4 linked regions of the Homo sapiens genome follow. The protein of the gene in region 2 interacts with the protein of the main gene of each other region in a pairwise test. Each region holds a gene or a part of one and is shown on either strand. Other genes may lie near its edges.

Region 1 (4,080 bases), on a different chromosome or scaffold from region 2:
GCTGGAAAAAAAATCCCAAAATATTTGGAAATTATACACTTCTAAATAACCCATGAGTGAAAGAGGAAGTCACATTTGAAACTAGAAGATATTTTGAACTTCATGAAGGTGAAAACACAACATATTAGTATCTGTGGGATGCAGCTAAAGCTGTGCTTAGAAAAAAAAATCCAGCATTAAATATTTATATAAAAGAAAAATATTCTCAAATCAGTGATCTTAGCTCCCCAATATTTTTAAGATGTCAGTTTTCCCCAGTTTGATCTAAAGAACACAATTCCAGTCAAAATTTCAGCAGGCTTTTTTGCAGAAAATGACAAACTGATTCTAAATTTTATGTAGAAACCAAAAGAATTAAAAAGACCTAGAAAAACCAAAATAATTTTTGAAATGAAGAACAAAATTGGAGGACTTATTTTTGAATGTACTAAGGACATGAGTTGTTGATACAAGAAACAATGGAGATACTCTCAATAGCATTATGCTAAGTGAAAGAAATCAGACACAAAAAGCAACATACCATAGGATACAGTTTATAAGAAATTCTAGACAAGTCTAAATGATGGTGACAGAAAACAGATCAGTGGTCCCCAGGGCCAGGGGCTGGGAGAAGGGAACTGGCTGCAGACAGATGCAGAAACTTGCATGGTGATGGGAATGTCCCATGTCTGGATAACGATGGTGGTGGTTATATGACTGCATGCATTTGTCAAAACTCATCAAATTGTACACTTCAAACTGGGAAGTTATTTTTCAATAAAGCTACAGTAATTAAATAAGTCACTTTTTTTTTAATTGCTGTCAAATAGAACAAGAGTGAGGACGTGGAACAGCCAGGCAGAGCCAGCCTGCAGCGGATGGGGCCCAAGCAAGTGAGGACTCAAAGGCCCCAGGAAGTGGGGCTGGATTTCAGGCTTTTGGGATGAAGCCAGCTGAGAGAGGCTGAGCCTGTGTCCCCAGAAGCTCCAGGAGAGGATTTGAGGTGCTGGAGGGGGCATCGCAATGGAGGGGGCACCTGAGCAGGTGGAAGGAGCTGGGCTCCAGGTACCTGGTGTGGGAGGATGCACGTTTCCCAGAGGCAGCCGGGAAGTAGGGTGGGTATCCATGAAGAGGGGTGCATCTGAGTGCTCACGTGGAACACGCTTATGGGCTTGGGTTTGCCCTGTGAATTGGGAGCTGAGAAGGGCAGGCAGATGGGAGGCTAGGTGAAGGGAAGACCCCTCAAGGCCTTCTCACACCCAGACACCAGCTCCCAGGGCTGACCTGGCACTGCGTCCCTGGCTCCCATCTTGCTCCCCCGAAGGACATCTGCCTAGGCGCCCCCAGTGGGTGTCAATGATGACCTAGCCCCTAACCCCCATCTAAAGCCCCTCCCCAAGGCCTCAGCTGTCAAACTGTGAAAACCCCAGACCCAGAGGCCTCTTCAGGGTCCAGGGAGGAGCAGCAGCCTGGGGCTGTGGTTGCCCTTCTCCCCAGCCTCACCCCTCCCCACAAGTCCCACTCCTCCCCACAAGTCCCACTCCTCCCCACCAGGCCCCAGCCCTCCCCACCAGCCTCACCCCTCCCCGCCAGCCTCACCCGTCCCCACAAACCCTCCCCTCCCCGCCAGCCTCACCCGCCCACTAGCCTCACTCCTCCCCACCAGTCCCACCCCTCCCCGCCAGCCTCACCCCTCCCCGCCAGCCTCACCCCTCCCCATCAGTCCCACCCCTCCCGGCCAGCCCCAGCCCTCCCCACCAATCTCACCCCTCCCCGCCAGCCTCCTCCCCGGTTCCCATCAGCCATCAGCTCTGCCCCACTCTGGATGCCCTGGACTGACTATGTGCAATTCTCCCACACGACTCTTCTTTATGTGCAGAAAATGCCAAGTCTCACTGGAGCGAGTGGGAACCCACAGCTCCCGAGGACAGACTGGAGATGACCTGAACCCACTAATCAACCACGAAGATTGCTTCTTTGTGACTTTTGGGCAAAACTCACGAGGGCAGCTGCAGGACACAGCCCGGGTTGCTTTGACAGTCACTGAATCCACTTCTCCCGGTGGGTGGGGGCATGGCTATGGAGCCATTCGGGCTCCTGCCCTGGAGGGTGACTCTGGGGCCCATCCTCCCGAGTGAGAAGCAGGTGGGTGTGGGGAGCTGGGCTGGAAAAGGTGGGGTCTGGGGCTGTGGGCCCTGTCCCTGAGAGTCCCCAGCCCTGAGTGATGCCACCTCTCTGGGCGGTCACTAGCCTGGGCCCAGAGATGAGAGACTGATGTGACACACACTCACCCCATGGGAGGGAGGCTGCAGGTTTAAGGGCCCTCCTCAGGACCCTGTCAAGTTCCCAGAATCCCTCCCAGAAATACTTTTATTAAAATAAACTGAGCAAGGCCAGGCGGCTCAAAATGATCCACACAAGGGGGTTCAAAGATAATCCAACGATGGAGACAGGAGACAGGGTGGGAGGGAAGCGGGTCACGAATGCACAGGAAACAGCGGGACTGTGGGAGGACACCCTGCAGCCTCGGGCCCTCCAGCTGGGCTGACAGGCAGGCTCTGGGCTTTGGAGGCAGTGAGGGTCAATTCGGGGCTCCATGGGGCGTCCTGTCCCTGTGTGCCTTCTGCGTGTGCTTGCAGAACAGACCATAGAGCACCCTCAGTGTGCTCTTGGCATCCTTGTTCACGATATCTGCGGGCCAAAGGAGGGCAGGGCAGCCAGTCAGGCCTGGGTGGCAGTGACCGACTGTCCCGATGTGGTCAAGGTTTCCTGGCATTCAGGATTTCAGTGCTAATCCCAGGAGAATCCCTGGAAGCCAGGACAGCTGGTCACTCCAGGCCTGGGTCCCGCGCCTGCTGCGTGACTGCCTCCTCCTCCTGGCCAGTCCTCCTCTGAATGCTCCTGTGGTGCCCCCAACACAGCAACTCCTCAAGGTCTGGCTTCTCTGGACAACCTGTCCCCAGAGACCTTGGTCTCCCCCTCCCCAGAACCTCTTCCCCTGGGGCTGCAGTGCCCCCTCCCAAGAAACCTTGGCAAGCGCCCATTCTCCACCCCTGCCAGGCAAGAGGACTCTGCCAATGCGTGCTCATCCCCCAATGCCCTGCACCCTGTTCTGTGGCTCTCGCACAAGGCTGCCACCCAGGGCTGGCCACCGTGTGGGCATCTGCCTTGCACTCACCTTCAGGGCTGACAGGGCAGCTGAGCAGGCCCTCGTCCTTCAGCAGCTCCAGCGCCAGGGTGACGTTGTGCAGCTATGATGACAAGGCCCTATCAGATGTGGGCACAAGCAGCAGCCCCAGGCCAGGCCTTGGGTCCCAAGTGCCAAGCCCTTCCTGTTGTCTGTGATGTCCATCATGAGCCTAAACTCCCATCCAAGGTGGGCATCCCTGACCACGACCACAATCCGTGGTCATCCAGCATCTCCCTACAGCTCACTCTGTCACACAAGCAATCCATGTCTCATTCCTCAGCCACTCACAGGCCCCACTCTGAGCAGGTGCTATACCACACTGGGCACACGCTTGCGTCCAGGGGCCACTGCCCGTGAAAAAGGCAATCGCCAAGGAGGATACCCAATAGGGATCAGGGAAGGCTTCCTGGTGGAGGTGAAGCCTGGTGGTGAGTCCCGCCAGGCAGGGAGAACTACCCAGGGAAAGGAGCAAGGGCCTGGGGTGGCAGAGCACCTTTGAGAACAGCTGTTTCCCAGGGCAAAGCACAGTGAGGAAATCAAGGCTCAGAGGAGCCAAGGGGCTCACTGGAGCTCACGAGACAGAAAGCGCTCAAACCAGGTCTGTCCGCTCCAATGCTCATGCAAAGCAGGCTAGAGACTGGAGCGGTCCCCACCCAGGTGGCTGTCCTTTCCGCCACCCCTTGCCTGGGGTGCAGTCTCAGAGATGGCTCCCTTTAGGGTGGAGAGCGCCCGGGCATCAGTCAAGTCCCCCAGTGATTCAGAGCTCAGCTTAGTCCCTGCCCAGGGCCTCCCCTTGCTCCCCTGCAAAGTGGGCTCACCACAGTTCCCCTGTGCCTTGCTACAGGATATGGTGAGAGCCCAGGAGCCTGCCGGCCCTCCCACAGTAGGTCCCCTCCCTTTCCATTCTAGCT
Region 2 (7,035 bases):
TGGCTCATGCCTATAATCCCAGCACTTTGGGAGGCCACAGTGGGTGGATCACTTGAGGTCAGGAGTTCAAGACCAGCCTGGCCAACATGGTGAAACCCCATCTCTACTAATAATACAAAAAATTAGCCAGGCGTGGTGGCACGTGTCTGTAATCCCAGCTACTTGGGAGGCCGAGGCATGAGAATCGCTTGAGTCTAGGAGGCAGAGGTTGCAGTGAGCCGAGATTGTGCTACTCCACTCCAGCCTGAGCAACAGAGTGAAACTGTGTCTTAAAAAGAAAGAAAGAAAGAAAGAAAGAAAGAAAGAAAGAAAGAAAGAAAGAAAGAAAGAAAGAAAGAAAGAAAGAAAGAAAATTTAAATCTCACTGGAGGCTGAAGCACTAGTTTTGGTCTTTAAGCTTCACTCCCTCAACTCACTCTCGTGGAGAGCTGGTATAGATAATAAACACCACTACTCAATATTTATGAAATCCTGTTCTTCTGCAAATATATCAGCAGGCATGTTCAGTGGAGGGAACAAATTCTATCAGGAGCTCGTCACACAGCAATCTGTTCCAGTAGCCAAACACAAGCACCTCCCTGAATGATAAACATGCCCACAAGGCTGTGGCAGGCCTGCCTTCGGGGGAGACGGGAGCCCCTATCCCCCAGCGTCTATGCCTGGTGCCCCACACTGCCCATACTCACCACCACGACGTCTCTCTCTGCAGTCTTCGTTTCTGCAGAGAACAGAACAGGCAGAAGTTAAGCTTCTTGGGTGGTAAATTGACCTTAAAATTCCACCTCCACAACGGTATTTCCCCTAAATAGGCTTCGATCTCAGTCTTGCAGACACAGCAAAGAATTGTTCTGTCTATAGATATGTTTCTTGACAACTTTCCATCTTCTCAGAAAAAAATACGTACACATATGTATACACACACACACAATAACATACGAACAATTTAGTTGTTTTTTATTCTTTTTCTAGCTTATTATCAGTGGACCTAGAAAACTGGCTTTTACATGGCTTTTAAGATAAGAAAGAAAGATGGGATTGGATACCTCTGTTCATAAGGTGTGGGTTTTGTGCATTAATTCCCAAGCCCTTTTATTTTATTTTATTTTATTTTATTTTATTTTATTTTATTTTATTTTATTTTATTTTATTTTAAGACAGGGTCTCACTCTTGTCGTCCAGGCTAGAGTGCGGTCACAACTCGCTGCAGCCTTGACCTCTTGAGCTCAAGTGATCCTCTCAGCTATCTCCCCAGTAGCTAAGACTACAGGCGTACACTACCACACCCAGCTAATTTAAAAATTTTTTTTCTACAGACAGGGTTTCACTATCTTGCCCAAGCTGGTCTCGAACTTCTGGGCTCAAGTGATCCTCTAGCCTTGGCCTCCCAGAGTGCTGGGATTATAAGTGTGAGCCACCATGCCCAGCCCCCATCCCCTTTTTAAAAAGTGGGATTAGAGACAGTTTGTGAAAATCTCATTTATTAAAATCATCTCTGTCAATATGATCAATAACCACTATAATCAAATTTCTAACCCTGTTGAGACATGCCTTAAGCATGTCAGACACATGCCTGTAGATGGAGTGATTAAAGCAAACTTTTTTTTTTTTTAATTAAAACACTGTCCAATTCTTTGTCCTGTCTCCCCCACACTCTGGAGTCTACTTGAGGCCAAGCCAGGACACCTCCTCAGACCTGGAGCTGCTCAGATGGACCTTCCCAATTTACCCACTTCTCTGAAGTCAGTCAGCTCTCAGCCCATCTCACCACCCTCATCTCCCCCTTCTCACTAGTCTAACCTAAATAATTTGTGGAAATGATCAAATCCATTAGAATCTGGGAATCAAATATTATCTGTTCTTTTTTTTTTTTTTGAGACAGAGTCTCACTATGTCGCCCAGTCTGGAGTGCAGTGGCGTGATCTTGGCTGACAGCAACCTCCACCTGCTGGGTTCAAGCAATTCTCCTGCCTCAGCCTCCCGAGTAGCTGGGACTACAGGTGCGTGCCACCATGCCCGGCTAATTTTTTGTATTTTTAGTAGAGACGGGGGTTTCACCATGCTGGCCAGGCTGGTCTCAAACTCCTGACCTTGTGATCCACCCACCTCGTCCTCTCAAAGTGCTGGGATTACAGGCGTGAGTCACTGCGCCCAGCCTTATCTGTTCTTTCAAAAGAGGCCTGTGTCCAGCACAAAGCATTAGCTGTCCTCAGGACACCCTCCATGGGCTGCAGTAAGCAGGTCCTGTCTACATTTAACACACGGAGAGTTCTTTCTTCCTGTGCCATGCAGCAAGGGACAGACCTAGGTGTTCAGCTGAGCTGATTGGCGAGGGCTCTAGGTAGGGCATAGGCAGGACCAAATTGAGATATCCAGGCAGGCCAAGGCACTGTCCCCCCACCCTTCCCATTCTCCAGCTGCAACCGACCTCCGCTTCCTTCCAGCCACAGAAGATGCAGCTGAAAATGCTCCAAGATGTGATCGCGGCCTGATTCTTTGCCGAGTAGGAACCTTTTTACGTAGCACAACAGAGCAAGCAAAAAACAACAGACAAGGGAAACAGGTACTGTACATACCTCCTTTCTTTGTCCTATGGGGGGAAAAAGAATGGCTATTAATTCACTTGAAAGTATGCTGCACTGGCACACACATGACACCATGGGGTTCTTTGGGCAACTATGCCCTTTGAGATACAGGGGTTGACTGAAAGAGGTGCCAGGGATAGGGGCCAGAAAGAAAACTAGATCACCACGCCTGCTTCGAACAAAGCAGCTTCATCACTATTGGCTTTGGACTAGGGAGGTTCTGGGAATTTGATGAGTTGAAAAGTATCACCTTATAAACTTCAGGGAATACATTGTTTCTGATGAGAAAACCTGGTGAGGACATGCCTGCCCTAGTCAGACTGTCCAGCGAGTCTTCTTGCCCTATCCCTTTCTCCCCAAGAGCCAGCAGAGCAGAAGGCTTGGCTCACAACAGGGAGGTTTGAGAGCTGGCAGTTACATTTTGGTTTCCTGTCACATGAAGAGCTGGACTCAGACCCTACGAGATTTCCCATGATCACCTTGGATTCTATAGCTCTGTAACCCTAATTTTCTTCTTTGCTATTTGACAAAGTTGGCTGTCATATGGTATAACTAATTTCCAGAGAGGTTGAGTCTGAGTCTGGTTTTCTAGCTAGTTTTTCTTTTTTAAGTCAACCATGTTGAAAACAATTAATATTTACAACATAAGTTAAAAGAACCAGGTTCAAGGTGCATATTTAACGTTTAGCCATAAATTACATGAGAGTTGCAGTGTCTATTGGATTTGTTTCTTCAAGAACTTCTATCCAAATCCCAGTACAGTACACCACCATCCTTACAAGCAATTACTCTTTTAGAGCTGTTTTTTTTTAAAAAAATCAATTTGTGAATAGAGTTCAAACAAAAATGCCTTTTTTAATTTCAGCAGATGCTCGAGGATTTCTTACCTTGAAGTCAAGGTTGCCAATAGCAACAAACTTCCGCAATAAATATGGCAAAATGCAACGCACATCTTTATTCTAATGCCTTGTACTTTTATACAGTCTTTCATCCATAGATTTTCTTATTTGACAGTTAATATTTAATATTTAAAATACCCGTAAAAGGCACACATGTCTTATCACCCCCTCTTTTTGCCATTGAGAGATCCTAGAACTCAGAGGTTCCAACACCTCAAGATACTTGGGCATAGAGCTAAACTTGGAATCTAGAATCCTGAACTCATTGGGACTCATCTGTGAAGAATAATGAAACAAGATTTGTAAAAACTGGCTGGGTAGTGTACTAAGCATTTACTCTATATCAGGAATACAGTTAAGTGCCTTGTTTACATTTGTTCATTTAGTTGATTAATTTTACAAATAAGAAAATTCAAGTTCACAGAGGTGGTCACTTGCTCAAAGCCATATTCCAAGAAAATGGTAGAGCTAAGACTTGAGCTCAGGCCCATCTAACTCCAAAACTCAGGCTCAGAACCATCTAAGCTGTAAGTTGTAAGAGCTACTGAGAATCAAGGAGCTTGGCTCTGGGAGAAGTTTGTGATTCTTTGGTGCTCTCTTCACGTCACTCTACTACCTCACTTTAGCCAGTAAAAGACACATCACAGATTGGCACAATAAGAGGCATATTAGTGGGCAGCTGAAAACTGGAAAAAGAGAAAACAGGCCTGCGTTTACAACCCTTAAGAGTGAGAGACTGAGACCACAAGCAAAACACCAAGAATTATTTGGTCACACAAAAACCCGGCTGAGTCACTGGAGACAAAAGCTTAATTCCCTTATTGGTTTTGTGTGCTTGCCTTAATTCCATACTATCCTTTAAATATTCTACAAATAAGAGCACGGCATATTCTATCGCTATTTACAACAGGGCTTTGCTGAAGATTTTATCCAGGGCAAGGTCATCAGAAGGTTGATGCCCCAGTCTTATTAAGAGCCTCAAGGACAGAGTAGGTTGCCAGGGAAAGCCAAAAGGATGGTTTCCTGGCCTAGCAGGTGACAAAGAAAGTGCACCAGGACCGAGGGGAGCTGGGATTCCTTCCCCCGTATCTCCTTTTCCTGCCTTCACTCCAGGCAACCTGCCTTGTAGAGAAATCCTGATTCTCCATTTTTCCTTCTCCTGATGTCACCAGAAACAGTGTCCTAAAGGAGGTGGGGAAGAGGGCCCAGCCCACTGGCAACTTACAGAGGTTCCTTGTTCTTCCCAGTCTTGCAGGGGCAGTGTCTGTGGATGGCTTTGGCCAATAGGACGACCAGGTACACGAGGAGACCCAGAAGCAATATGGAGCCCAAAGTGATGACAAACGGCACGTACCATGCAGATGGAGAGTAAACGTTTTTCCTCAGGACCTGATAGGTGACCCTGGGCTTGAACAACAGAGAGCAGGGAGGGTGAGTAGAGGGTGGTAGTGATTTTGACATTCAGCACTCTCTCGTGTTGAGTGTTTATTCCACTCTTTGTTATTGTTATTGCTCTATAAGTTGGACATCTGTGTGCTCACAGTTCTTGCTGCTTCAACCCATCACCTTATTTATAGTCTTTGCAGACATCCATTAGATCAAAACCCAGAAATTTTAGGGAACTGAAAAACAACTCTAGGCCTTATTTTATTCTCTGTCTTCCCCTTCCCCAAAGCTAAAAAAAACTCCATTGGCTTTTTTTCTGCCATATCTGGGCATAACCCAGGGACGAATATAGCCATTGTCTCTCACCGAGACAGCATAAGCCACGAAAGTTGTTTTTTTAAATGCCTTGTAGGCTTTTCAGTGTTTTCTCAACTACAAGCTGCCACTGCCAGAGCAGTGGGCTGATATCACAGCAAAGCCTCAAGTTCAGCATCTGCTTCCTAGAGCTGGAGACAGATAACAAACAAGTTACGGAGGTTTCAGGATTGGAGATGTCACAATCAGGTCATGCTCTGAGCCCAAGAAAGGTGGGAACTCCTCACTCAGGAGAGCCTACCAGCTCCTCCCACAAGGAAAGTCCTAGGGTTGCCATATGCCTCCATTCACTGGGGTCATATTGACTCGAGCATGGGAGAGAGAAGCATGAACCAGCTCCTGGCAAGACTCTGAGAAGAAGCTGGCCACCTCCATAGTGGGTTCTCTAAGGTTCTGATTATCTTCCTTCTGGCATGCTGCAGGTATCAGGCTGCTGACCAGGGGTGCAGCTTCTACTAGGAGGAGGAGGAGGAGGAGGAAGAGGAGGAGGAAGAAAGGGGACAGATGAGTCAGCATAGATGCAAGCCAGTTCCTCCAAGGGGCAGGGAAGATAATCCTGTTGTCAGATTCAAGGCTCTCCCTTCCTTCTCCAGGCCAATTCTGTGATAGCACCTGGTCATTTTCTTCCTACCCTTTCCCACAGTCTGTATTTACTTTGTCAATTTGAATACTTGTTTGTAATCTATCTCCCCCTCTAGATCAGTGGCTCTCAGACTTTAATGCACATTAGAATTCCCTGAAAGGCTGATTGAAAACACAGCTCACTGGACCCCACCTCCAGAGCTTCGGATTCATTAGGTTAGGGGATAGAGTTGGGGATTCCAGGTTCCAGCATCCTTCCCTGGAGGTCATGGTGATGATCATGGTTGGGTAACCTATAACTTTAATAATCTAGGCTGGGCCTGAGAATTTGCATTTCCAACCAGTTTCCAGGTGGTGCTGATTCTGATGGTCTAGGGACCGCACTTAGAGAATCACTCGCCTATACAATAAGCTTTCTGAGAGCAGGGATCATTTTTGGCTTGTTTGCTAAAGTGACTGGCACACTATAGGCATTAAATCGATATTTGTAGATTGGATGAATTTTTTTGGAGCGGAGGTGGGGTGTAGGGTACAGATTGGTACCTGGTGATTCTTCAAAAGATGTGGGAAAGAGCACCCAGCAGTAAGCAAGCAACCTAATTTCATGGATATTGACTTGCAAAGACTCTTCTGAACAAGCAGAGAGGGGTTGTGAAGGTAGCAACTGGCAGCATGCCCATGGAAATCAGCTCCTGTGCCACAAGCCACACAGATGGTTGAGGTCTGATCTCTCACAAGTCTCTGCACAAACAACACACTCTTCTCTACCAGAACAGGAAATGTTAGTGGTTGAGTTAGCGGTTATGAGTCTGAGGTCTCACCAGATTTTTGCCACCCTGCAGCTACTCCAGTCCAGCCCATGGTTGCCATTTTTGGCAACATCCTAATACCTCAACTCTTCAGTCCACCCCACATACCTCCAGGCCGGGGAAAGAAGTCCATCAACATAACTCACAAGGGAATGTGCCTGGGGATTCCAGGTCCTAAAGCCCTTACCCTGGGGGTCGTGGTGATGATAGTGGTTGGGTGGGGAATGACTTTAATACTCAGTGTCACTGTTCCTGTCTCAACAAGAGCCTCCGCTTTCTTCCTGTCAGACATCAAGTTGTCATCAGTTACGTAGACAAGTAGCTTGTAGTCCCAGATCTTATCAAACCCACCAGCATAGTCAAAGCGAGATGTAAGCAGCAGGCGTGTGACATTGGAACCAG
Region 3 (7,035 bases), on a different chromosome or scaffold from region 2:
AGTGCAGAAGGAAGGGGCTGCGGACCCAAAGCAGGTCGGGGAGCCCAGCGGGCAGAAGACCCTTGATGGATCCTCACGGTCTGCAGAGCTCGTCCCCCAGGGCGAGGATGATTCTGAGTATTTGGAGAGAGACGCCCCTGCAGGAGATGCTGGGAGGTGGCTGCGTGTCAGCTTTGGTTTGTTTGGCAGCGTTTGGGTGAACGATTTCTCCAGAGCCAAGAAAGCCAACAAGAGGGGGGACTGGAGGGACCCTTCCCCGAGGTAATGGTGTGGCCATCTGATTTTCGTGGGCTCTGATAGTCATAGGGCCCTGCTTGGTGGGGTTTGGGACTTCAGCAGTGGGGACATACTGAGGACGTCCAGTCTGCCCCCCAGGGCCCTGCTGTCTTGGGGAGAGAGGCCACCTCTGTATCTACCTGTGATAGGAAGTAGACTGTGGTCTGCATGCAGGAGAGGGTTGTGCACCAAGAGGTGGCTGGGAGAAGGGGAGAATTTTCCCAGCAAATGTGGCACTTGAGGGGGGACTGTCCCTGAAGAACATTTTATTGCCTGACTCCTGACTAGTGTGCTTTGAATTTAGGGAGAAGATTTTCCCAGTTTTATTTTAAGTATATTGTTTGTGTGTTTATTTTTTATTGAGATATAATTAACATTCAGTAGAATGCAGATCTTAAGTATTCAGCTTGATGAGTTTTTTTGCTTTGTTTTGAGACGGAGTCTTGCTCTGTTGGCCCAGGCTGGAGTGCAGTGGCACGATCTCGCCTCACTGCAACCTCTGCCTCCCAGGTTCAACCAATTCTCCTGCCTTAGCCTCGGAGGAGCTGGGACTACAGGTGCGTGCCACCACACCGGCTAACTTTTGTATTTTTAATAGAGACGGGGTTTCACCATGTTGGACAGGCTGGCTGGTCTGGAACTCCTGGCCTCAAGCGATCGCCTACCTCCGCCTCCCAAAGTGCTGGGATTACAGGCGTGAGCCACCATGCTTGGCCCCAGTTTTTATAATCTATGAATGTTGAGATCAACATTTTATGCATAAGACTCTATCTAGGTTTAGGATATGTCCTCAGTGTCAATTCCCAGAGGAGTAATTGCTGGTCAGAGGGAATGCATATTCTTAGGGCTGTACATTTTTCTGGCCTTAGGAAAGTGCTAGCTGAGCTGAAATCTCATGAATGTTAGGTCGTTTGTGTACTTCTTATCAATGTAATGAAGCTTTTGCACAGAAAGTCTGTTTGTTTTTGTGACATGTGTTGCCAGTATTGTTTCAAGTCTGTCCTCTGTCCTTTGATTGTGCTTATGATGTCTCTTGGCATTTGGGATTTTAAATTTTTATATCATCAACGGTGGGTATTTTTCTTGGTTGCTTGTAGGTTTCCCCTTTTGCTAAAAAAAGGCCCCTTCTGCCCCCAGAGAAAGTCACATGCCTTCTATTTTCTGAAGTTTTATAACTTGTAAAAATGTTTAGAAGTGTAGTCTTTATTTGTGTGGCCTGACGTAGGTACCATAGGATGCTATGGGCTGTAAAAATAACTCGGAGTAGCTTCTGTGGTCTGGAGATTTTGGGCTCACATGACTGGAAGTTCAGAAGGAGGGTGGGCTTTGGGGCTGCCGTTCCAAGGTTCTGGCTTCCTGTTTTTGTGATTCTCCTGGCTTTGCACTTTCCACGCATTGGTTTTCTCCTTAGACCAGCAGCAAGAGGCTACTGCAGCTCCAGGATTTTATTCACACCAAAAAATCCAGAAGAAGAGCAGATCATTTTTAGAAGTTCAGATGAGGAAACTTTCCTTAGAACCCCCAGCAAACCTGTCATCATCAGGAGCCTGCCCTTTGCTGAGTCCTGGATTAGTCACCAGCTGGAGGCATTGAAATGTGCTCCCCGAAGGAGGCTCACCCCTAGGTTTTCAGATATAGTGCCGTAGAGTGAATGTGTATCATGCCATTATTTTTAAATCTCTTTTTACCTGGTTAGGTCTCTTTTCTCATGTACCTGTTTTATGTTTACTTTGCTTTGTCTCTTTTTTCTTTAATAGGCTGGCCTGAGTTTATCTACTTTGTTGGTCTTTGAAATAAATACTATTAGCTTGCCAGGTATAATACTGACTCCTGTCTGTAATCCCAGCACTTTGGGAGGCTGAGACAGGAGGATCACTTGAGCCCAGGAGTAAGAGACTAGCCTGGGCAACATAGTGAAGACCCTGTTTGTACAAAAAAATAAAATAAAATTAACCGGGTGTGGGGGTGCATACCTGTAGTCCCAGTTACTTGGGAGGCTGAAGTGGGAGGGTAGTTTGAGCCAGGGAGGTTGAGACTGCAGTGAGCTGTGATTGTGCCACTATACTCCAGCCTGGGCAACAGAGCAAGACCCTATTTCCAAATAAATAAATAAATAAAATTAGCTTTATATATCCTTTCTATATGGAAAGGGTATATGGAGTATTGAAAATATTAGGTTGGGTGTGGTGGCTCACACCTGTAATCCCAGCACTTTACGAGGCCGAGGCAGGTGGATCACCTGACGTCAGGAGTTCGAGACCAGCCTGGCCAACATGATGAAACCCCCATCTCTACTAAAAGTACAAAAAGTTAGCCAGGTGTGGTGGTATGCACCTGTAATCCCAGCTACTCGGGAGGCTGAGGCAGGAGAATCGCTTGAACCTGGGAGGAAGAGATTGCAGTGAGCCAAGATAGTGCCACTGCACTCCCGCTTGGGTGACAAGAATGAAACTCCATCTCAAAAAAAACACATTATAAGTCAAAAAAGCATTTAATATGCCTAGCCTACCAAACATCTGGGCTTAGCCTAACCTACCTTATATGTGCTCAGAACAATTACATTAGCCTACAGTTGGGCAAAATCATCTAACACAAAGCTTGTTCTATAAAATGTTGAATATCTCACGTAATTTATTGAATGCTGTACTGAAAATGAAGGTTTTATAGGTACTCAAAGTATGGCTTTTACTGAGTGTGCATTGATTTTGTACCATTATAAAATCAAAAATTAAAAGTGAACCATTGTAAGTCAGGGATGTCTGTATGTGTGTATGATCCAGCCACAGAGTGTGCTCTGACTACGTTGTGGTAACGATGTGGGGATGTGTGTATGTGTGTATGATCCAGCCACAGAGTGTGCTTGGACTATATTGTAACGATGTGGGGATGTGTGTATGTGTGTATGATCCAGCCACAGAGTGTGCTCTATGTTGTGGTAACGATGTGGGGATGTGTGTATGTGTGTATGATCCAGCCACAGAGTGTCCTCTGACTATGTTGTGGTAATGATGTGGGGATGTGTGTATGTGTGCATGATCCAGCCACAGAGTGTGCTCTGACTATACTGTGGTAACGATGTGGGGATGTCTGTATGTGTGTATGATCCAGCCACAGAGTGTGCTCTATGTTGTGGTAACGATGTGGGGATGTGTGTATGTGTGTATGACCCAGCCACAGGGTGTGCTCTGACTATACTGTGGTAACGATGTGTACATATGACCTGTTCTTTCTTCCCAGGTTGGTCCTGCACTTTGGTGGTGGTGGCTTCCTGGCATTTTATAATTGTCAGTTGTCTTGGAGCTCTTCCCCAGTGGTCACACCCACCTGTGACATCCTGTCTGAGAAGTTCCATCGAGGACAAGCCTTAGAAGCTCTAGGCCAGGCTCAGCCTGTCTGCTATACACTGCTGGACCAGAGATACTTCTCAGGGCTAGGTATGACTCATGGGAAAGGGGTGAGTCCACAGAGTTGCTTCATGGAAAAGTCGGTCCTGTGGGAGTCAGAAGACCTGAGGGCCACCCTAGTTGTGCCAGTGCTGTTGGTTTTGAGGTGCCACTTGCTCAATCTCCTTTCTTTTACTTCCCTTGTTTTTAGACTGAGGGCATTAGATCAGGCAGTTTTTAACTTGTCTCTCTGCTTCAGAATCCACACCCTAACTGTGTTATCAGTTGTGAGCCCTCTGCCAGCAGCGTTGGAGCATCACCTCCTAAAGGGTGGGGTCATGTCTCCGGCACCTCTGTACCCTCCACTGCACAGTGCAGCGCCTGCACGTAGGAGGTGCCTGACCTGTGTCTGTAGGAACTGAAGTCGTGCAGGCTGCTAACAGAGCAGTGAGCGCGTGTTCTAAGGGATGCTGCTCTTGGGTGGATGGAGCTTCCTGCCCTGGCCAGGGCACAGAGATGACTCAGTCTACACTGGGTTCTTATGCGACGCGAGTGAAGAAGCTGTTTCCCTCTCTCTATTGCAGTGGCGTGAGCAGTGAAACTGTGAGCATTTCAGGATAGGGAGAAGTGCTGAACAATTTCAAAAATACATATAACAGCTAATTAGCGGGACTATGACAGCGTGGCGTTCTTATTACTCACAGTAGGGGAATAATTGTGCCCAAAATTGGTTGCTGAAGCAATCAGGCAGGTTGGTGGTGACAGAGTCATCTCCATATCCAACATGTGGCCTTGCTGCCTGCTCACCACCCTTCACGAGGGTCGGAGGAGGCCAGGTGGTACAGCAGGCACTTGCCTTGCATTTTCATGTTAGGACCATGGGAGTCCCTGTGCACTCAGGAGCGAAGAGCCGTCGGAAGTGGCTTTTTGGGTATATATGGCAAGAGCTAACAGTAACAGTAGTAATTAATAACGGCCAGTGTTTTCCAAGCAGCTCTGATGTGCCAGGCACATGTTCTTGTCCTTACTGCTGTCCTGTAGGATGGTTATAGTGCTTTTCCCTTCCTTCAGATGAGGAAACTGAAGCAGAGAACACATCGCTAGTAAATGGTGCAGCTGAGATGTGAATCCAGGTGTTTTGTCAATGAATTCTGGAGAGACTGATGTGTGTAATGAGGAGTGTGACTATGAGGCTCTTGGAAACAGCAGGAATTTCCTTCACCCACTCACTCCAAACACACAGACACTCACTTGAGCTCTGTCACGCTCACCACCTCTCCTTAAGGAGATCATTGTATAATGGCCCAGCAAGCATGGACTCAGTCCACTGTGGGTTACTAAAGATTGCAATGAATGCCTGGTGGAGCTGAAAGAGTATGGTTGGAACATTCCCAAGAGAGTTACTGATTCTGGAAGGAGGGATCGAGGCTGGCTTCACAGAGAATGAGGCAGGAGTAGAAAAATAATAAGATAACAGCTCCCGAAACACTTTCTACATAACAAGCATTATGCTTGGTATTTCATTTATTTTATTTTTTGACACAGGGTCTCTCTCTGTCACCCAGGCCAGAGTGCAGTGGCACAATCACAACCCACTGCAGCCTCAACCTCTGTGGCTCAAGCGATCCTCCCACCTTAGCCTCCTGAGTAGGTGAGACTACAGGTGCATGACATCACGCCTCACTAATTTTTAAAATTTTTGTAGAGACAAGAAGCTCTCACTGTGTTGCCCAGGCTGGTCTTGAACTTGTGGGCTTAAATGATCCTCCTGCCTCTGCCTCCCAAAGTGCTGGGATTACAGGCGTGTGCCACTGTGCCTAGCTATGCTTGACATTTTGTTTTTAATTTAAAAAAAAATTTTTTTTGAGACAGGGTCTTGCCATGTTGCCCAGGCTGGAGTGCAGTGGCACAATCTCAGATTACTGCAAGCCCCACCTCCCAGGTTTAAGCTAGTCTCCTACCTCAGCCACCTGAGTAGCTGCGATTACAGGCAGGTGCCACCATGCCTGGCTAATTTTTGTATTTTTGGTAGAGATGGGGTTTCACCATGTTGTCCAGGCTGATCTTGAACTCCTGGCCTCAAGTGATTCACCCGCCTCTGCCTCCTAAAGTGCTGGGATTACAGGAATGCGCCAGGCCAACATTTTAAATAATAACAACAGTTAATACTTATTGAGTACTCTACATACCAGCCACTGTGCTCAGCGTCTTTTGGTGAATTCTCATTTAATGCTCACAAAAACCAGGTAAGCCATCCCTGCCTTACAGATAAGGAAACTGCAGCTAATTGAGGCTGAGGAGCTTGTCAGGGTCACGTGGGTAGGATCTGCTTGAGCTGCGATTCAAGTGCAGGCAGTCAGATGCCCGATCCGTTTTTGATAGCCTGTTTGCCATGACGGGCCATGCATGAGTTTCATTTCATCTTCACAGCAACCTTAAAGGTAGGAATTGTCAACTCCATTTTACAGACAGAGAAATGGAGTCAGAGATCGCAGACCCGTCTAGGGTCCCCCAGGACATGGAAGAGCTGATTTCTGCCTTGTTAACTTTGTGGGTGGTTTCATCATGCCATGTGTCCTTTGTCCTTCCCTTACCTTCCCCCGCTTTATTTCAGGGAACATCATTAAGAATGAAGCCTTGTACAGAGCTGGGATCCATCCCCTTTCTCTCGGTTCAGTCCTGAGTGCCTCGCGTCGGGAGGTCCTGGTGGATCACGTGGTGGAGTTCAGTACAGCCTGGCTGCAGGGCAAGTTCCAAGGCAGACCGCAGCACACACAGGTCTACCAGAAAGAACAGTGCCCTGCTGGCCACCAGGTCATGAAGGAGGCGTTTGGGCCCGAAGATGGGTTACAGAGGCTCACCTGGTGGTGCCCGCAGTGCCAGCCCCAGTTGTCAGAGGAGCCAGAGCAGTGCCAGTTCTCCTAAGGAGCTGGTGGTGCTCCTCACGGAACCTTGCCGCTTGGGGAACCTGACGTCTAAGTGTCCAGAAAGGAGGATGTGGGCAGGGACGGGGTACAGAGGATAGTGTGGGTCAGAGGTGCCAGTAGTATAATATTCGTCTCCCTGGAGTTATGTTGAAGGCAGAGTTTTCATAGGGTTAGATTTTTTTTATCCTTTTCTAGTTCAGTTAATTCATCCTGTTGAATTGCACCATCGTGAAAGATGGGAAAAATCGTGATGATGGGTAAGGGGAAAACTTCCCGGAAGGCAATGGGGCAAGGAAAAAGAAAGCCTATGGGAAATGGCTGTGCTCCCAACATAGCTTTGCAGATGATGTGGGTTTTTTTTTTTTTTTTGGTTGTTTGTTTTGAGAGAGAGTCTTGCTCTGTCTCCCTGGCTAGGGTGTGGTGGTGTGATCTTGGCTCACGGCAGCCTT
Region 4 (7,035 bases), on a different chromosome or scaffold from region 2:
CATCTGTCCTGAAGGGTGAGCCTCAGGCAACGTCCCATCTTTCTCCCCTCCTCTGCACATCACCTTCTCCTGTGCCTTAAACATCACCTGAATCTGCCCAGCAGGGTTCCAGTTCTGGTTCACATCATCTGTCACATAAACTATCTGCACACTCTCCTAACTGTGCTCCCGTCTCCCAAATTCCCAATCATGGGCGAAACAAAGGCTCTTTCTGTTGTAAGCCAGGGCTCTTAGAAGTCTCTATGCAAGTCCCATAGCTCAACTGGAATGGAGAGGCCCTCCCAGCCAAGCCAAGCAGAGGGGAGGGCAGAGGTGGGACACTGCAGTGGGGCAATGTACCTGTCAAAGGAGGGCCGCTCCCCAGCATCAAAAGCGTCTCTCAGCTGCTTCACCAGGTTGTCCTGCCCAGGCAGACGGAAGATGCCCTCTTCATTCCGGCCGTGCTCCAGGATGAACTCTGCACATTTCTCCACCAGGATGGGCACCAGATGGGGGCCGAATTTCTGTTCATAGGCCACAGTCTCATCCAAGCGCTGGCCAAACACTGCTGAGGAGAGAGCAAACAGAACCTGCCCGTCATTCTGTGCTTCCTTGGATGAACTATTTCTTGACTTTCTGTGTCACCTGTGTCTTCACAGGTTTTATTGCAATGATACTAGACAAAATATGGGAGATAAATCACTCAGAATATTTCCTGAAGCTATAAATAGGGGCCTGTAAATTTGAGGCAGTCTTTATCAGTCTTTTTATATTGACCCACATTTCTTACATATTTAAAATAATGGTTGGCTTTTACTGAATTCTTTTGCTAGGAATTGCACACTTTTTGTCCTTTAACCTTGACAGCAACCCCATGAGATGGTATTAATGTCACACGCACCTTACTGTTAAAGACACTGAGCCTTAGACACTTGCCAAAGTCAGGCAGCTCAGAGCATGACACAGTTGGGATTCAGGCCTAGGCAGTGAACTCCCAACAATATGCCTTAACCACGGCAGCAAGCAGGCCGTTTTGAGTTCCACTGGCGTCACAGAGTAGTAAAGCATAACACAGTATGGCATCCTCCCTTATCCACGGTCAACTGCAGTCTGAAAATATTAAATGCAAAATTCCAGAAACAAACAGTTCATAAGTTTTAAATTGCATGTCATTCTGAGTAGCATGATGAAATCTCTCGCGGTCCCGCTCGGTCCAGCCTAAGATGTGAGTCATCCCTTTGTCCAGTGTATCCACGTTATATACACTACTTGCCCAGGAGTCGCGTAGTAGTTGTCTCAGTTATACTTAGTAGTTGTCTCAGTTATAAGACTGAAAAGACATAATGTGTATAGGGTTCAGTACTACCTGAGATCTCAGGCATCCACTGCGGTCTTGAAATGTATCCCCCCAAGGATAAAGAGGGACTACTGTAGTCTATCACATAGATGTTTCATCTCACTAAACCACTGTGGCATTTAAAATAATTTAGGTTGTTTACTATGTCCTAATTATAAACATTGCCACAGCAAACACGTTCATTCACCTGGCAGAGATCCTGGAATGTATGCAGTACAATGCATAATTTCTAATTAATTAACATTTGGATGCATGAACAAAAGCGTTTCATTCTTTTGAACTATTTCCTTAGGACAAATTCCCAAGTGTAGAATTACTGGGTCAAGAGGTTTGAACATTTTTATAACTTGATGGCATGCAAATTGCTTTCCAAAAATATTTTCCCAAATTACCCTGCCTCCAGCAAAGCAAGTGTGGGCCAGCTCCACCCCAGCTCTGTCTGCGTGGAGAAACTTTGCTCCACAGTTTCCCCGCACCGGCAGTGTGAGAAGACAAATTTACAAATCAGGACAACCACTGCCTATCCATTCTCCCACCAGGCTTCCATACCCTGGAGGTTCAGAAGACAGGCCGTGGCTTCTGTCCTGTCCTGCGTGACTTTCCCTCTGCCATAATCAGGGCTCTGCTGCACCCAGCACTTCAATCCCTAGGACATCCGTTTGCAAAGTCACTTGACTCTCCCCATGATTCTCTCTCTCACGTTGGTCCCCTCCATCCCACCTCGAGTTCCTGTGGATTCCACCTGTATAGAGCTGTACCAGGCTCTTGACCCTCATGTTCTTTTCCGCTCCTACCCACTACCCAGCGTAGGCCAGCCTCCTCTCTCACCTGTAACCGCTACAGTCTCTTCTCTCTATCATGTTCGAAACCCTCCTGCTGCTTGCCTTTCTAAAGCATCATTCTGCTTGAGCGCCTTTCTCTTGGTTTTCAGTACTCATCTGCTTCTCTCCCAACTGCCACAGTGATGGTTTTCAAATAGACATTTAAAGCCCTGGCAGTTCATCAGGGACTCCTCTTTCATCACATCAGGTGTTGGGAGGTGAGAGTGTGGAATCTAGAAGGAGCTGAATAGGTGGCCTCTGTATTCCCCACTACCACCAAATCTGCTTGGCTGTTGTTCGTTTCACTTATTGCATTGCGGTGAGACTGTGATTAGATACTTCTGTGGCTAAAGTTTGAGAATCAAGGCTGGCATTCCTCAAGGCTTGGCACCCACCTGCTTTCCTGGCCTGATGTCCTGCCATGCCCCAAGAAGCAACTCACACTGACGTTTCCAAAACGTAATGCTCTGCAGTCTCCATGTCCTTGAACAGTCTCCTCCCTGTCCAGTCTGCTCTCCCCCTTCCCTGGCTGCACCAGGAGGACAAAGAGGACAAAATTCTTTTTCTCCTCCTTGGCCCCTCTCAAATATCATCATATCTGCCATGCCTTCCTGACATCCAGATGGAGGGACTACATCCTACTCTGTGCACCGTATTGTTTCTTGAATATCCCAATCCTTCCCGCACTCTGTGATCATGATTTGTATGTACCTGTGTCATCTGCATGATTGTAAGCTCCCTGCTACTGAGAATAGGAGGAAAGGCTGTTTTCATCCCCAATGTCTAGTGTAACCCCTGGCAAAAGGTAGACAGTCAACAAATTTTGCTGAAGGATTTAATGAATCAATTTGTCTTTAAGCAAGTATTTCACATGACTAATGGTTATTCGGCATTTCTTTAGTTTAAACACTAATAGGAATCTCCTTGATATATGAATTCAGCTTCCCACTAGCATGCATTGAGTGCCCTGCCATGTGCCAGCACCAGGTTCCATGGAATGGGTTGTACAGACAAGGGACATGGAAGACCTTGTTCCTGCTTTTAATGAGTTTGCCAACAAGTTATGAAAATAACATAACAGATGGACTGTCTGCCTTTGAGGGGTCACACAAAACATGGTGAGAAACAATTAGAAAATTTCAATAACCATATGGAATTAGGTTTCTATTTGTCTGTAAAAGGAGCTGGACAGATCTTTTCACCAAATTGATAGGACATGATTGAAATATTCCGACTTAAAACAGACCAGATAGCATCAGGAAAATTCTCTTTTGAGAGGTCCAGAGAGGGGCCCTTCAATGAGAGAGGCAGATGTCTCTTGGAACAGTTGAAACTCAGGCTCCAGAGGTCCACTGGACTTGATGGGGAAAGATAGCACAAACACAATGTAAGGATGTGCACAGAGAAGTCAAAGCTTTCAAATTCAAGCTCCATTTCTGAGGTCTTATAGGAGATGCTCCACCTTGCAGATGATTTGGGGCCAAGCTCCTTCTTGCACCTTAATATATGTCTAGTTCTCTAGCTTTTCTCCTCATCCCAGTCTATCAGCCTTGTCCTGCCTTCATCCTCTATTTCTCTCATGCCTCAAATGCAGCCCTTTCAATATTAATCTGACCCATACTTTTTTCTTCAACATCCCCGCCCTGCTGCTTCCTACTACCCTTTGCGTGTCTTCATCAGGCCACTGAGAACTACAAAAGACCATGCACAACCATATTGTGGAAATTTATCCTTCCAATCTCTGCAAGACACTGGTTCCAAATTTTTGCCACTCCTGTTGAGCTCCCCACCCATTCCCTCCCTTCTCTGTCTCAACAGGTGATCTTGGCTCCTCTTTCCTTCCATTATCAAATGGAGGGTTACGAGTGAACTCCCTCATCTCCAGTCCCTGCCTTTCCCATCCTTTCTCCTCTGTGTTCCTGTCTTCTCCCAGAGGAAGAAAAGGGCCCTACCTTTCATCTAGGATGATGCCTTCTTGAACTGTGGGTTCCATTCCTTCCATCTCTTCCAGTACTTACTGTTTCTCTTTGTATGTTGAAATTTTCTCTTTCAATTGAAAGATCCCACGTGGGTCTAAGTCTTTGCCATTTATGAAAGAATAATCTCCCACCTCAGTTCTCATGCAAATGACCAACATTTGCCTTCCTTCTCTTTACCATATACTTGTAATAAAAATGTCTACTTCTAGAGAGATGTCTGCCCCACTTCCTCACTTATCACTCACTACTCAGCCTCTCAACCCATCACAATCTGGTTTCATTAGCCTGCACTTCTTCACTAAATCTGCTCACTAAGATTTCTAGTGCTCTCCTAATGTTCATTCCACACCCTACTTACTGATCTTCTCTGAAGACTGATGTTGTTAATTCTCCTTCCTCTTCAATACTTTCTCCCTACATTGCAATAAATCCAATCATTCCTGTTCTATGCTCATGTCACTGATGACTCCTTTCAAGTGTCTTTGACTGTGCTCCATCTTCCACCTGCTCGTTTGGTGCATCATTTCCTGGGATTCCAACTCAGGCTTCTTTTCTTCTCACTCTAGTATTCTCCTTAGGAAAGTGCATATGATTCCACACATTTAGATATCACCTATAAACTTATAACTTATTAATCTGCATATCTGGTCCAGATCTCTCTCTCTATATATATATATATGTATGTATGTATATGTGTGTATATATATGTGTATATATGTGTGTGTATATATATACACACACATATGTGTATATATGGATATATGTGTATATATGGATATATGTGTGTGTACATATGGATTGATAGATATAATTTATGAAAGAATAATCCCCCACCTCAGCTCTCATGCAAATGACCAACATTTGCTTTTCTCTCTTTAGTATTATACTCATAAAAAAAGTGTTTTATTTTATCATTGTATATGTAGTTATATCATATCTATTTCCATCTTTTCTCTCTCTCTCTCTCTCTCTCTCTTTCTCCTCTATTCCCATAAGTTCAATGTCTAATGGCAATTCTCCCAGTATCTTCTCTAATCTCACTATCATCCCATCCCTAAATCACTGCTTCTCCTGTAGCCTTCCTCAAAGGCAATAGCTTCATTCCATCATCAAGTGCCAGGTACTCTCCTAGGCACTGAAAATACAAAGCCATTAATACAAGGTACCTGCACTTAACTAACCCAATTAGCAAAATTGTGAGCATTAGAATTATCCGCAACACTCTTCACTCTCCCCAAATAGGTTGGCACATTCTTTTTTTTTTTTTTTTTTTTTTGAGATGGAGTCTTGCTTTGTCATCCAGGCTAGGGTGCAGTGGCGCAATCTTGGCTCACTGAAACTTCCTTCTCCCGGGTTCAAGAGATTCTCCTGCCTAAGCCTCCCGAGTAGCTGGGACTACAGGCACGTGCCACCACACCTGGATGATATTTTGTATTTTTAGTAGAGACGGGGTTTCTCCGTGTTAGCCAGGAAGGTCTCGATCTCCTGACCTCGTGATCTGCCCACCTTGGCCTCTCAAAGTGCTGGATTACAGGCATGAGCCACCGCGCCCGGCCTAGGTTGGTACATTCCAAATATGCTTTAAACAAGCTCCCTATTCCCACTGCTGCTGCCTATATCGTTATAATGGTTTCTTTTGCAACTCTGTTTCTTGCAAATTCCTTCCACCAGAATTCACAAAGTCATTCAACAAATGTAGGCTGAGCATTTGCTGTGGGCCAGGCTCTTTGATAGTTAGAGAGTATGAAAGGAAGAATGAAAAATGGTTTTTGCTTTTAAAAAATTCTCAAGAGAATGCCCTTCCTCCTACTCTCCACCTGGAAACCCAGTCTTCTGAATTTGGATGTCTTCTCAGAGAAAACTGGTCACTCTTTCCTCTACTCATAGAGCTCCCTGTGTGTTCCTCGATGTTATCACTGTCATGTAATTTTATGATGATTCACTTAAACATCCCTCTCTTCCACTGGACTGTGGACCCCTCAAAGGCAGACAGTCCATCTGGCTCAGCATCTGTTTTCAGAACCTGGTATGTGATGGACCTCAGAGAGCTGTCACTACCTGCTGCCTCCCATTCCTCCCATTCTCTGCCCCTTTTCTCTACTCAGTACTTCCCCAAACCTATTCTTGTCAAGGAGACCAATGGCCTTTACATTTTAAAATCTGAGATGAAATTCTCTGTCTTCATCTTAACTACTCTATCAGCAGCAAGTGATACAGCAAGCCACCTCCTTCTTCTTGGGACACTTTCTCATGTGGCTTTTGGCACACCAGTCCCTCTTGGTTCTCCGTGTGTCTCATCAGATGCTTTTAGCCTCCTCTGAGGATTCTTCCTGTCCTTGCTGTCCTCTACATGTTGGAGGGTCCCAGGGCCTCCCTCCCTCATCTGCACACTTTCTCAGAGTCTCACCACTTTAAATATCACCCATATGATGAAGACTTTGAACTTGACATCTGCAGCCTAGAAATCCGTCAAAGCTATTCTCTCAACAAGAACCAACCACTGGATGCTCTGGAGACATCAGGACCAACAGTGTCACTTCTTACATGAGAGAAAAATCATCTTTGTTTTTTTTTAGCTTGGCTAAGTCAGGTTTTGTCACTCTTAATCTCAGATCACATGAGGAGTTTGGAATCAGAAACATCCCTGGAACTCCAAAGACCTGGTCCTGAGTTATACCAGTGTCTGACCTCTGGGTCCTAATTGTCACCCCTTTGGCCATTAGCAGAGCATTTCCATCTTAATAGGTATAAATTTTCATGAATTTATTATAATAATTATAAGTAATATAATTACCATAATGTAATTATAATATATGTAATATGATAATTATAACTATTAACCAATGTAATTAATGACATTAATTTTATGCTGAGAACTGACCCCAGATACTTTCACATG

The links.
Region 1: the proteins of CDHR3 (region 2) and PARVG interact in binary tests that used the Homo sapiens proteins (3 or more experiments, as listed by UniProt).
Region 3: the proteins of CDHR3 (region 2) and NEIL2 interact in binary tests that used the Homo sapiens proteins (3 or more experiments, as listed by UniProt).
Region 4: the proteins of CDHR3 (region 2) and ARHGAP25 interact in binary tests that used the Homo sapiens proteins (3 or more experiments, as listed by UniProt).

What each region holds. Positions count from the first base shown.
Region 1 is NC_000022.11:44,204,907-44,208,986, reverse strand, and holds the end of PARVG (gamma-parvin), read right to left. Parts: intron 3,231-4,080; coding exon 3,158-3,230; intron 2,671-3,157; coding exon 2,561-2,670; 3' UTR 518-2,560; downstream 1-517. UniProt on the Homo sapiens protein: Plays a role with ILK in promoting the cell adhesion and spreading of leukocytes.
Region 2 is NC_000007.14:106,022,234-106,029,268, reverse strand, and holds part of CDHR3 (cadherin-related family member 3 isoform 1 precursor), read right to left. Parts: coding exon 6,821-7,035; intron 4,889-6,820; coding exon 4,707-4,888; intron 2,588-4,706; coding exon 2,574-2,587; intron 719-2,573; coding exon 687-718; intron 1-686. UniProt on the Homo sapiens protein: Cadherins are calcium-dependent cell adhesion proteins.
Region 3 is NC_000008.11:11,779,690-11,786,724, forward strand, and holds part of NEIL2 (endonuclease 8-like 2), read left to right. Parts: coding exon 1-261; exon of another isoform or gene 262-833; intron 834-3,513; coding exon 3,514-3,710; intron 3,711-6,273; coding exon 6,274-6,584; 3' UTR 6,585-7,035. UniProt on the Homo sapiens protein: Involved in base excision repair of DNA damaged by oxidation or by mutagenic agents. Has DNA glycosylase activity towards 5-hydroxyuracil and other oxidized derivatives of cytosine with a preference for mismatched double-stranded DNA (DNA bubbles).
Region 4 is NC_000002.12:68,800,785-68,807,819, reverse strand, and holds part of ARHGAP25 (rho GTPase-activating protein 25), read right to left. Parts: intron 1,092-7,035; exon of another isoform or gene 881-1,091; intron 548-880; coding exon 340-547; intron 1-339. UniProt on the Homo sapiens protein: GTPase activator for the Rho-type GTPases by converting them to an inactive GDP-bound state.